3 linked regions of the Homo sapiens genome follow. The protein of the gene in region 1 purifies or fractionates together with the protein of each later gene. This does not show direct contact. Each region holds a gene or a part of one and is shown on either strand. Other genes may lie near its edges. The genes, in order: AVIL, USP47 and DDX11.

What was found.
Region 2: the proteins of AVIL (region 1) and USP47 purify together in Homo sapiens (co-immunoprecipitation; 3 studies listed by BioGRID and IntAct, with this or other methods). This does not show direct contact.
Region 3: the proteins of AVIL (region 1) and DDX11 purify together in Homo sapiens (affinity purification with mass spectrometry; 2 studies listed by BioGRID and IntAct, with this or other methods). This does not show direct contact.

What each region holds. Positions count from the first base shown.
Region 1 is NC_000012.12:57,816,937-57,820,685, reverse strand, and holds the start of AVIL (advillin), read left to right. Parts: upstream 1-1,951; 5' UTR 1,952-2,057; exon of another isoform or gene 2,058-3,749.
Region 2 is NC_000011.10:11,839,779-11,843,527, forward strand, and holds the start of USP47 (ubiquitin carboxyl-terminal hydrolase 47), read left to right. Parts: upstream 1-2,193; 5' UTR 2,194-2,407; coding exon 2,408-2,446; intron 2,447-3,749. UniProt on the Homo sapiens protein: Ubiquitin-specific protease that specifically deubiquitinates monoubiquitinated DNA polymerase beta (POLB), stabilizing POLB thereby playing a role in base-excision repair (BER). Acts as a regulator of cell growth and genome integrity.
Region 3 is NC_000012.12:31,071,968-31,075,716, reverse strand, and holds the start of DDX11 (ATP-dependent DNA helicase DDX11), read right to left. Parts: upstream 1,858-3,749; 5' UTR 1,626-1,857; intron 1,453-1,625; exon of another isoform or gene 1,173-1,452; intron 1-1,172. UniProt on the Homo sapiens protein: DNA-dependent ATPase and ATP-dependent DNA helicase that participates in various functions in genomic stability, including DNA replication, DNA repair and heterochromatin organization as well as in ribosomal RNA synthesis.

The sequences.
Region 1 (3,749 bases):
TCAGTTAACATGGGACCTTCTGTTTAGCTTCCTCTTGCTTCCCAAAGATTTTAAGCATTTTGTAAATGTATAAACTCACCTCTGGTAACAGTGGCCCAGACGCTGCTTTGTGCTAAAAGCATGGGAAATGTAAAGGCAGTCTTTCTCTGGGAAATGGATGCTATTCTATTCTGCTGCCCCTACCTGTTCCTGAGGCCTCATTTAGAAAGAAAATCCCCTCAGAAGGCTGTCTGGCACCCAGTGTCCTAGCCAGGCCAAGTATATGAGAAAGGTAAGTCCATTTTCCCCTTCAGGTCCTCAGTGGATTACTTAACCACTGCTGTCCCTCGGTCCCTTTTTCCTAAACGGGTTTAGTTCTGTCTTTTTTCTCCTTTTTTCTAAATGCTGGTAAATATTTACATTCAGCCAGGGAAGAGGAGGCCAGAGGTCGGGCCAGCTGCCCCATTCTTTTAACGTTGTAGGGCCTGCCCATGGAGCGGACCCTCCTCTTTGGGCCTCGTGAGCTTTTTTGCTTATCATGTTCCATTTCGTGCCGCTTTCCCCCTTCAAGATGCCATTTGGAGGGTAGGGGATCTGCTTCCCACTGTGACTGGGCTATGGGATTCTGACTACCTTGCTTACAGATTCATGGTTTGATAAATTTGTTGTATTCAAAAACTTGAAATGCAGGACGCCATTAAGTGTCTGTTTATATTTTTGGAATATTTGTATTACTTACAATTAATTAATAAAAGTGGGTTTAAAAAACCTTTCCAGGAATGTGAGCTGCCACCAACCTTCATTGGCCCTTAAGTGTTCACTGGGCCCATGGCAAGCACCGCCTTTCTTCTCGCAACCCCTTCCATCATGAAGCAGCTGCACCCCCGGGCTGAGTGGGGTGTTGCACCCACCGGGAGGCCAGCTGCAGATGCCACACAGGGCTTCCGCTCAAGGTTACACAAGTTCTGCTGTGATCAACCCCATTGCAGTCAGGTGCTTAGCACGTGTATATGCTTGATGTCCTATTGACTTCTGGGCATGAACCAGAAGCCCTAAGGGAATGGATTATTATTTTTTTTTTTTTTTTTGAAATGGAGTCTTGCTCTGTTGCCCAGGCTAGAGGCAGTGGCATGATCTCAGCTCACTGCAACCTCCACCTCCCAGGTTCAAGCGATTCTCCTGCCTCAGTCTCCTGAGTAGCTGGGATTACAGGCGCCTGCCAGCACGCCCGGCTCATTTTTGTATTTTTAGTAGAGATGGGGTTTCACCATCTTGGCCAGGCTGTTTTCAAACTCCTCACATTGTGATCCACCCACCTCAGCCTCCCAAAGTGCTGGGATTACAGGCGTGAGCCACCACCACACCCAGCCCTGGGAATGGAGTCTTGATTCTTCTCTGCCCCTCACTGATTCTTCCAAACTGGAAACCCTGAAGCTGAGAGCCCAGCATGGTTCCTGGCAAACAGCAGGCACTCAAATATTGATTGGTTTACTGTATGACTAGTAGAGACCCCAACGAGCAAAACTGTGGCCTAATAAAATTCTGGCTCCTCTCCCAGACTTCCCCTCCCTTTGAGAAATGCCAGAAGCTTCTTAGGGAGGCTCTTGCCAACCTAGACATCACAGGCACTCATGGGGCAGCTCCAGCCTCTTCCTCCTGTCATCACCATAATGCATCCATATCTACAATATGGCAAATTTCATATCCTTCCAACCTCTTTCCTGCATTATTGATGGGCTGTGTGCACTTTTTAAAAAATCAATTAGATCAGGGCGTGGAGCTGGAGTTCAAAGAAGCCTTTAAAAGTCTGCTCTTCTGTTTTGCTGTTTTGAATAGGCACAGATAAAGCTTTCCCTCTGGTTTGAATAAGCCAAGCTCAGTGCTAGGTTGGCTCTGATTGGCCAGGACTAGGAAAATGCGGTTAAGATGCAAACACAAGCAAATATAACCCAGTATCTCTGCGGCCATTACTAAGCTAAGGCAGCAGGACCTGGAGCCTCCTGCTTTGGAGTGGTTCTTCAATACTGCTGCTGCTTACGCGCCGGGAAACTGGGAAGGCTGGTGAGCGAGAAGGCAAGGTAAGGTCTCTGATTTACGGGGGCATGCCAGTTAATCCTCCTGAATGAGGAAGAAATGAAAGGAAGAGGAGCTTGAGAGTCCCTTGGCTTTGTCTTCTGAGATGAGGCTTTTAAAATGAACCAGGAGTCTGGCTGGCCAGTTTTGCAAACTTCTTGTTCAGAAGAACCCCTTAGAGGCAGCTGAACATATAGGGCACATTTTCAAAAGCTGGGAAAGACAGACCCCTTTCACCTATCCCTAGAGAAAGATGGTATGGAGCAAGGCAGGAGGAGTTAAAACCAGCTTCCTGGCCCAGAGAGGTGGCTTACACCTGTAATCCCAACACTTTGGGAAGCCAGGGCATGAGGATTGTTTGAGCCCAGGAGTTTGTAACTTGTGACCATCCTGGGCAACATAGTGAGACCCTGTCTCTACAAAAAAAAAAAAAAAAAAAAAAAAAAAAAAAGCCAAGCATGGTGGTGCACACCTGTGGTCTCAGCTTCTCAGGAGGCTGAGGCAGAAGGATCACTTGAGCCCAGGAGGTGGCGGTTGCAGTGAGCCGTGATTGTACCACTGCACTCCAGCCTGGGTGACAGAGCAAGACCCTGTCTCAAAAACAACAACAACAAAAAACAGCTTCCTCTGCTCAGGGTCCGTCCAAAAGGGCATCTCTGAGAATTACAGGCCACTGGCTTTTAACCTGACATTTCAAAACTGTGCCCCACACCCAAGGGGTTTCTGCAGTCCTCTCAAAGGATACTGAATTAGGATTTAGGGAGAAGGAGAGACCCAGCTTTGGGAGATTTGATGTCAGAACTGTGTTTTCTGTGTGTTCCAGTGTGACAGGAAGTCCCTTCCTGGAGCTTATCCTCTCGCATTCGGGGTGCCTGGCCCAGGGAGCTCCTTGATTCCTAAATTCCTGCTGGGAAACGGGACAGGTTTCAGCCTCTGAGGCTCACAGTCCTAATTGCTGCCGGCTGGTTTGGCTTTTACCAGGGTGACAGTTCTCTGTCTCCAAGGAATGAATTCAGTGGCCCTTGTCCCCTTCCCCTAGTTGGCTCATGGCTTTTGCCTTTAATGACTGCTACGTAGGGTCTGAAGAAAACCCAAACACCATATTTCCTGGCAATTCTGAGCAGCACAGGGTGGGGCAGCACAAGTTATCAAATTAAATTCTCAAACACTGGCTGCTCCGCACCATTGCCTTGCTTTAGTCCTGCTACAGCAGTAGACAAAGCGAGTCTGCTTTGAGCTTTATGGTTTTTTGCCAAAGTCCATACTAGATGGCGCATGCTCTCCAAACTTGGCTTTGTCCATCAAGGTTCAAGAAAACAATGGTCAGACATGTTCCTCTTAACAAACAGTATGTCCCCAAACAGCAAAAATGCATACAGTCCTTTCTGGGTGAATTTTTAAATCTTACATAAATCCATCAACCCCATCCTTTTTCCTTTGCCTCTTGGGAGAAATTAATCTAGCTTTACATTAATTATGCATGTTATCAGATTTCAAGCTCCTTGAGAGCAGGTATTTTAATTCTATAAAGCCTCTACGTGGCCTTGGACATGGGTAGGTGCTTAATTACCCAAGATGCTCCTTGAATACAGATGGTACACGACCTACACAGACTTAGATCTTTACCACTTCCCCCCTCTCCCCACCCTGACTTGCTCAATCCTGAAGGAACTGGAGACGTCTAAGTGTCTGAGGTT
Region 2 (3,749 bases), on another chromosome or scaffold:
CCAGTTTATGTGGGCTGGGTTAAGTAGATTTATCAATTACATTCTTATTTCATTATATCAACCTTTACTAAAATGAAAGTGACTAAAAAGGATTTCTGGAAAGACAACATGAGTTTGAAATAATATTGCAAGCATAAGCAAAAAAGATGACAGAGATGACATTTTTACTTCTAGGGTGAGCACTACAGCACTGGCCAGCACTACAGAAGACACCTTACTAAGTCATGGGATGACATTTTGAAAATAAAAGTTTGGAAATATTTCCATCATGTGATTTTGATGCAAAAATGATATATGTGAGCCACCCAAGTCTGGGACTATGGTGAAGCAAATGGTTTTCAAGGTGAAAACCGTTCACCTTGGGCACAAAATTTAAGGGGGGGGTGCCAAAAATTCAATAATCAAGACAACTAATCTTAATACAATATTTTAAAAAGTCAAAATTTATCTTAATCAATCCATGATAATCAAAATATCAAAACCTTAAAGACAAGATCTATAACTCCCAAAACTCATACATGAATACTTAAAACTTGAAGATAGAAATTTTCAACTTCTTAAAAATCTTCTAAGCAATTTATTCCAAAGAGCTTTGAACCCATTTGTAAAAATATAAAAATGCAACATCTTCTGGTTGACATCAGGAAAGATGGAACACTACTAGCTGAATTTCAATAAAAACCTTTGCATGGTTGTTGGATGGAATGGATAAAAATGAAACTTTTTTCATATCAGTTTTTTTTTTTAAATCGTTCTAAACATGCATTAGGAAGAGTGGCCAAAGATGTACTTCCTCCTTTAGGATCTACATCTTTGTGAGTTACCTTTTTTTCAGCTTATGACAGCCATTAAAACCAAGTACAAAAATAACCTGACGTTCAATCAGATATTTTAATAACTATTTCACGAAGTATTAAAGATTTTTAAAACTAACGAAACCTAGTCAATCATATTGATTTCCTTAAATATTTTTAGTGAGAATAACAAAGATTTTTATACCATTAATATGGAAAATAACTAAGTTATTTTAAATGTTTATGTCATCTTTGTCTTAGCCTTTTTACATTTTACAAATGTTTTATAATTCTGCACACAGCAGGACACGTATAAAACTTATATAAGTATATGGATTTTTTTTTGGTAACGGGATTACAATAAAAAAAAGTTTGGAGAACACAAGTGCAGGCAGTTAATGCTGTGGGTGTTAGGAACATGACAAGATTATATTATCTCAGCATGCTGTAAGATCACTGTATCCATAAAAGTCTTCATGAAGGAGCCCCGCCGAGTCTCCATAATGGAAGCAGGATTTGGAGAAATGACTTCTGCAAACTTTGTTTAGTATAACACAAAGCACCATGCTTACTACTAGAGAAGATTAAAATTCTCTAAAAACCTTGTTAACGGAGATCACAGGTTGAAGCATACTGCAGCTCTACTCTTGGAAGGCTAGCTCAGTCTCAGACTTGGCCCTGATGGAGAAGGAAGTTCCCTGGAAGAGGGCAGGGGAGCGCCTCTCCAATGTAGTTGCGGGGGGCGGGCGGTGAGGACACCGCTTCATAAGGGAAGGGGTGGCTGCCTCCCCAAGCAGGGGGTGGCCCCTGAGGTCCCTCCAGCTGGGGGCCCTTGAGAGGGAGGGTGGGGAGAGGGGAAAAGAACGTCAGGAGAGTGAACGGGAGCAAATAAAACGCTGTCCATTCTGACTGGAAGGGCCAGAGCCGTGTCTAAGGGCGGGGGCCGGGAGGTGGCCCGCGGTGGTGTCTCTACCAGGACGAGGCCTGGGGTATCTGAAGAGGGGATGACGTCCAGGCGCTTTGCTAAAGGGAAGCCAGAAGGGTATGAGTTGCTAGGGTCAGAGATGGGGCTTTCGGCTCGAGTCTTTCCCTGCAGGGCAGAGAGTCCGAAGAGCCCGAGAAGGCAGGGAGGACAGTGGGCCTGGTCCTTCCCCGGCCGGCAGAGGGAGTCCCGAGATGGAACGTCCAGCTCTCCTCTAACGAAAAGCGTTTGCATGGCTGTCTCGCCAATTCTGTACCTCCCGGGGCTGAGGAAGAGCCGAGGTGACTAGAAGCTAGCGACAAGTGCCGGCCACCTCCGACGCCAGGCGCCGGGCTTGGAGCCCGACGGGCCGAATTCTCGCGAGAGCGGCCGCCGCCATTTTTCCATTGATTGCAGCGGGCTGGGGGAGGGGCCGACGACGAAGGCGGCTGTGGTAGCGGCGGCGGCGGCGGCGGAGCCCTGGGTCGGTGTCTGCGCGCTGGTGTCTGAGGCCCAGGCTGAGGCCTCCGCTATTGCTGGAGCGCAGGCGGCGGAGAGGATGACTGCCGCTGCCATTCTCTCTTGAGCTAGCGAGCCGCCGCCACCCTCCACCCTCCCCCGGCAGGGCGGAGAGGAGCGGCCGGAGTCAGCGATGGTGCCCGGCGAGGAGAACCAACTGGTCCCGAAAGAGGTGAGGGGCCCCAGAGGAGGTTAGGCCTTAGGCCTGCGGCCGCTCGAGGCAACACAGGCCCGGGCCGGGGTTCGGCTGCGGGCCCGGCCGGGGTGCAGGCTCGGCTGTGGGGGAATGAGGAGGCGTGAGGCAGTCGGGGGTGGACGGTGGGTGCGGCGAGCAGTTGGGAGACCCGCTGGCTCTAGGGGCCGGGGAGCGGACCTCCCGCCTCGGGTTTTATGGGGCTGGACGAATAAAGGAGCGGACGGGAAAGAATCAGGTTCTGCTCTAGGGGAGAAGGTGGCCTTTTAAGTTCTTGTTTAACGTGTGGAGCCGGGAGAGATCATTTCAAAGAAAACATTCTGGAACAGTTGCCTATGGGCACGGCAGGGTGACGGTGCTGCTTCTGGGTTTGACAGTGGCAGCGTATAGCTTTCAGCGCTTGTGAAATCTACACCCAAGTGAGATCTGTGGGAGGGCAGACTTAACTGTTACGACTTTTTTCAACTCCTGTTACTTGGTAGTACTATTGGCCTGCCTAAATGGGGCCTACCGAAGATCGTGGAAAAGTAGTACATGGGACATTAATGTAAAGGAAGGAGATAGGAGAACATTACCACATGGAGAGCTGAACTCTTTTTTTTTTTTTTTTTTTTTGAGGTTGGGTTGTGTATGCCAATTTGAGTGACTTCTTAAATTCTTAAAAGCAAGTGATACGAGAAGCCTTGACTACTTGGCTTCTCTTGAATAGTAGTAGAAGATTTAGGGTAGAATCCAGCACTGGCCAGCGAATTTCAACGTATTAATAGTATCTCTGTTGGCTTTATAAATATCTTCGGCGTATTCAAATGTGTATTTTTAACTGGCTGATCATCAGGCTAATGCTTTGGATTTTTATTTCTCATATACCTTAAATAGAGACAAGTGTTGGATTGAAATTAACTGTGTGCGATCTTGAAATTAATGAGTGATCATTACAGATTCTTAAATTTTTTTGTGCCTGTTTTACTTGTTTTGTAGCAATTCTTTGTTACTTAAGCAAGCTCTGACAGTATGCAAGGGTGATATTATTGGAGTTATGTACCTGTATGATACAAGTATTTTCCCAGCTTTGTCAGAAGGGCAGTGATAGTTGTTTTGCAAGGACGATTTTTGTAAAAGGCAGAGAGTTATGTGTCAGTATTTGTTCATCAAGCGTCACCAACTCTGTGCAAAGCAGATAAACAGATGAGTTAATCAGAATTCTTGCCTTGGGAACTTTCTGAGCTACTAAGAAAGGGAACACTAGTGTTTGTTGAACTCCAATTAGGGACTAGGTACTTTA
Region 3 (3,749 bases), about 27 Mb from region 1:
AACAAAAATCTGATGAACGAATGAGTAGCCAGCCAGACATCGGGGCTGTAAGTGAAGGTTTCTCTTCCGAGGCTGGGTAACGGAGGTCCCATGACTTGAATACCTATTAGTTAAATGGCCAGTTCTTTAATGGTTTCAAACCGTTTTCAGATAACCCCACAAAAACCCTGTGTGGTATTTTTATAAGCTCTATTTTATAGAGAAAGAAACTGAGACTCAGTAAACTTATATGACTTGCCCAAGGTCACTCAGCAAGTGCTTGAACTCAGGATTTGAACCACATCTGCCAGACCCCCAAGCCACCTGAAACTTTCTATCTCCTCACTTTTCCTCCCACCAGGATAAGTGGGATAAAAAAGACAGACTTGGTTACCAAACTCTAGAATGACAACACTAAACAATACAGAAGAAACGTAAGTATTATTTCACTTCCCCATCAGTGGTAATTATGGATCTCATTATTCCAGAAGCAGCACAGGCTAAATCATAGAGGTTTAGATAAATCTGAGTATAACGGATTCACTAAGCCCTATTAAAAACATTTGCAGTGACTTGTTCAGCCCTCTTCAGGTTGGCTGTGTGGAGGACAACCATCACCTCCCAGTGCCAAGGCACACACCAGGACAGCAAAGCTCACGCTCATAAAACGAGGTTAGAGTTGTGAAAGCACTTCAGGAACATATTAGTTCTTAACGTGTTCATTTTCTTCAGTCCCCAATTATCACTCATTACTGAGTACAGACTATTGTTGTGGGCTCAGTTGTGTCCTCCCCACATTGATCTTGGACATCCCAAGCCTCTGGGACTGTGAGAAAACACATTTCTGTGTCTAAGCCACCCAGTTTATGGTATTTTGTCATGGCAGCCGGGGCTGACCAAGACAACTATGTGGCAGGTACTATCTACCGTATGGCCCTAAAATGTTTTAACTTCACACACCTGGAAAGCACCACAGCCCCAAGAAAAAAGCTTTTCCGCACTGCTGTTAAGCCAGGGCCACACACTGCAGTACTGCGGTGCTCCACCAGCTGGAGGATGGCCTGGCCCATAATACCCGCATTCCCACCTTGCTCTGGCCCTGTGTCCCCTCCAACGTGCATCCTGAGCTCGCACCCTGTGTGGAACCCAAACAGCTGCTTATCAGCATTTAAGTCCATTTTTATGACACTTCCGTCAACAATCTGGTCAAGTGCACTCATTCCTGGCCTCCGTACTGTACCCTGCTCCGCCTCGATTCCCGCCCTGGGGGAAGCTAGACTCATGCAGCTAACTTTATCGGCTCTGGGCTCTGATTGCCAAGTTTAGGATCCCAGCTGTATCCTTGCTAAAGTTAGCATCGCTGGGGCTCAGTTTCCGTAAGAGACAGGTGGGTTACAAGCGCTCACTCACTGTTGCAGTGTCTTATCTACGTAAGATAATCCATGAAAAGCTCAACACAGCTGGGCCAAATCTAAGACCCAGACACGCGGCTGCTGTTAATGCCCACTTCTGCGCACCGCCCAGTTCCACCGCAGGCACAACCTTCCTAGGCCTACCCGTCCCCACACAGGGGTTCCCGCTTGTCAATCACGCTGGCCCGGCCCTCCACTTCCGGAATGTTTTCCCGCTCCGGACGGGCCACCCACCTTTGCAAATAGGGGTCCGGCGCCGGAACAGACGCCCAGTTTGCGATTTCACCAGTCTGCCCTTCCTCGTCCCGCTGCTCCTCGTCCTAAGGAGCTCTGCTGCCACACAGCACTGCGCTCACCTTCTTCGCCGGCAGAATTGCTACGCTGAAAGCCAGGCCCCGGGAATCAGGGCAAACGCCACTGAGTTAGAAACTGGCGGGTCCCCTCAGTGAAAGGCAGCCGGAACAACCCCCGCCGCTGCGCATGCGCACTCCGGGACGCGCGCGAACACGCAGCAGCGAGAATCTACAGGGGCGTGGTTTGCGCACGCGGGAACTGGGATCTCAACCCCAGGGCTAGGTGCCTCCTCCCGCTGCTTTCCGCCAGCTGCGGGGTGTGAGATTAATCCCCGCCGATTAGCGCCAGGTGTACTAAGCGCTGGATGGTTCCCTGACCAGATGAAACATCAGCCGATGTTCTAATGCCGGTCCCCTGGGCGCTGTCCCCGAGAGGGAAAACCTGTTTTCTGACCCCGGCTCTAGTCGGCCTCTGGAGGTCTGCAGCTGGGTTATTTTACCTTTGAAACGGACGACACCTGCCCCGTGCACCCCAGCGGCTCCTCCACACGGAGAGATGGTGTCAGTCAAAGGCCGTCTAGATGACGAGTTTATGAAATTGTTCCTGGCCCGTGCCGGGCACGACCTTGCAGAGAGCCCAGAAGATGAAACCCCAGCCCTGCCAGGAGCTCACCTGCTAATTAGGAGGACAACGAATCACCTCACCTCCCTAGACTTTGCTTCTCCTTTATTCAGTGAGGGATTGGACTAGCTGGTCCTTGAGGACTTTTCAGAAAGTCTGGTTCTGGGAGATGACCAATGGGATCATCTTATGCTATGAGCTTTCCTGGAATGACAGGTAATTGGTGCGCCTTCCCAGCAGGGTCAGGGAGAGTTGCTGGGACTTGAAGGAAAGGCTTTTGGGGAGAGGAGCCAGTGTTACAAACTATCGAAAAGCTTGGAGGTGGGAAATTTACAAAAGGTGATTCCAGGGTCAGCTTTTTTGTCACCTGCTTCCGACTTCGGCAGTTTGGAGAGGGCGAGTAAGTAATACCCTTCAGGGTCTTGGGATGTGGCCCAGCAAAATCCTTAGAGGGACTTTGAAGTCTTAGTTTTAAGTTTAGAATTAATGGGCAGAGTACTTAAATAGCCATTTCTCCAAAGATGTATACAAATGGCCCACAGGCCCATAAAAATGTTGCATTCCACCCTATAACATGTTTTTGCATAAAAAAGTTTTAAAATAACTGTTGTCTGGTAAATTGACACCTCTGGAATAGAATGTATGCTAGGTTTTTTACCCTACTGCTTCAAACCCCATCCTACACACACACTCCTAGGGTGTGCATCATCCAGTTTAAGAAGCACCCTTGGAGAAACAAAGTTGATAGTGTGTCCAGAATTGATGGGTTCTTGGTCTCACTAACGCAAGACTGAAGCTGCAGACCCTCGCGGTGTTAGTTTTTAAAGGCGGTGTGTCTGGAGTTTGTTCCCTCAGATGTTCCGATGGGTTTGGAGTTTTTTCCTTCTGGTGGGTTTGTGGTCTTGCTGGCTCAGGAGTGAAGCTGCAGACCTTCGCCTGAGTGTTACAGCTTTTAAGACGGCATGTACTGGAGTTGCTAGTTCACCCCGGTGGGTTCGTGTATCTCACTAGCTTCAGGAGTGAAGCTGCAGACATTTGCAGTGAGTGTTACAGCTCATAAAGGCAGTGCAGACCTAAAAAACAAAAAGAACAAAGCTTCCATACTGTGGTAAGAAAATCCTAGTGAGTTACTGCTGCTGTCTTAGGGCAGCCTGTGTTTATTCTCTTCTCTGGCCCCACCCACATCCTGCTGATTGGTCCATTTTAGAGAGAGCTGATTGGTCTGTTTTACAGAGAGCTGATTGAGCCGTTTTGACAGGGTGCTGATTGGTGCGTTTATAATCCCTGAGCTAGACACAAAAGTTCTCCAGGTCACCACTAGATTAGCGAGATACACAGTGTCGATTGGTGTATTTACAAACCGTGAGCTAGACACAGAGTGCTGATTGGTGCATTTACAAACTTTGAGCTAGATACAGAGTGCCGATTGGTGCATTCACAATC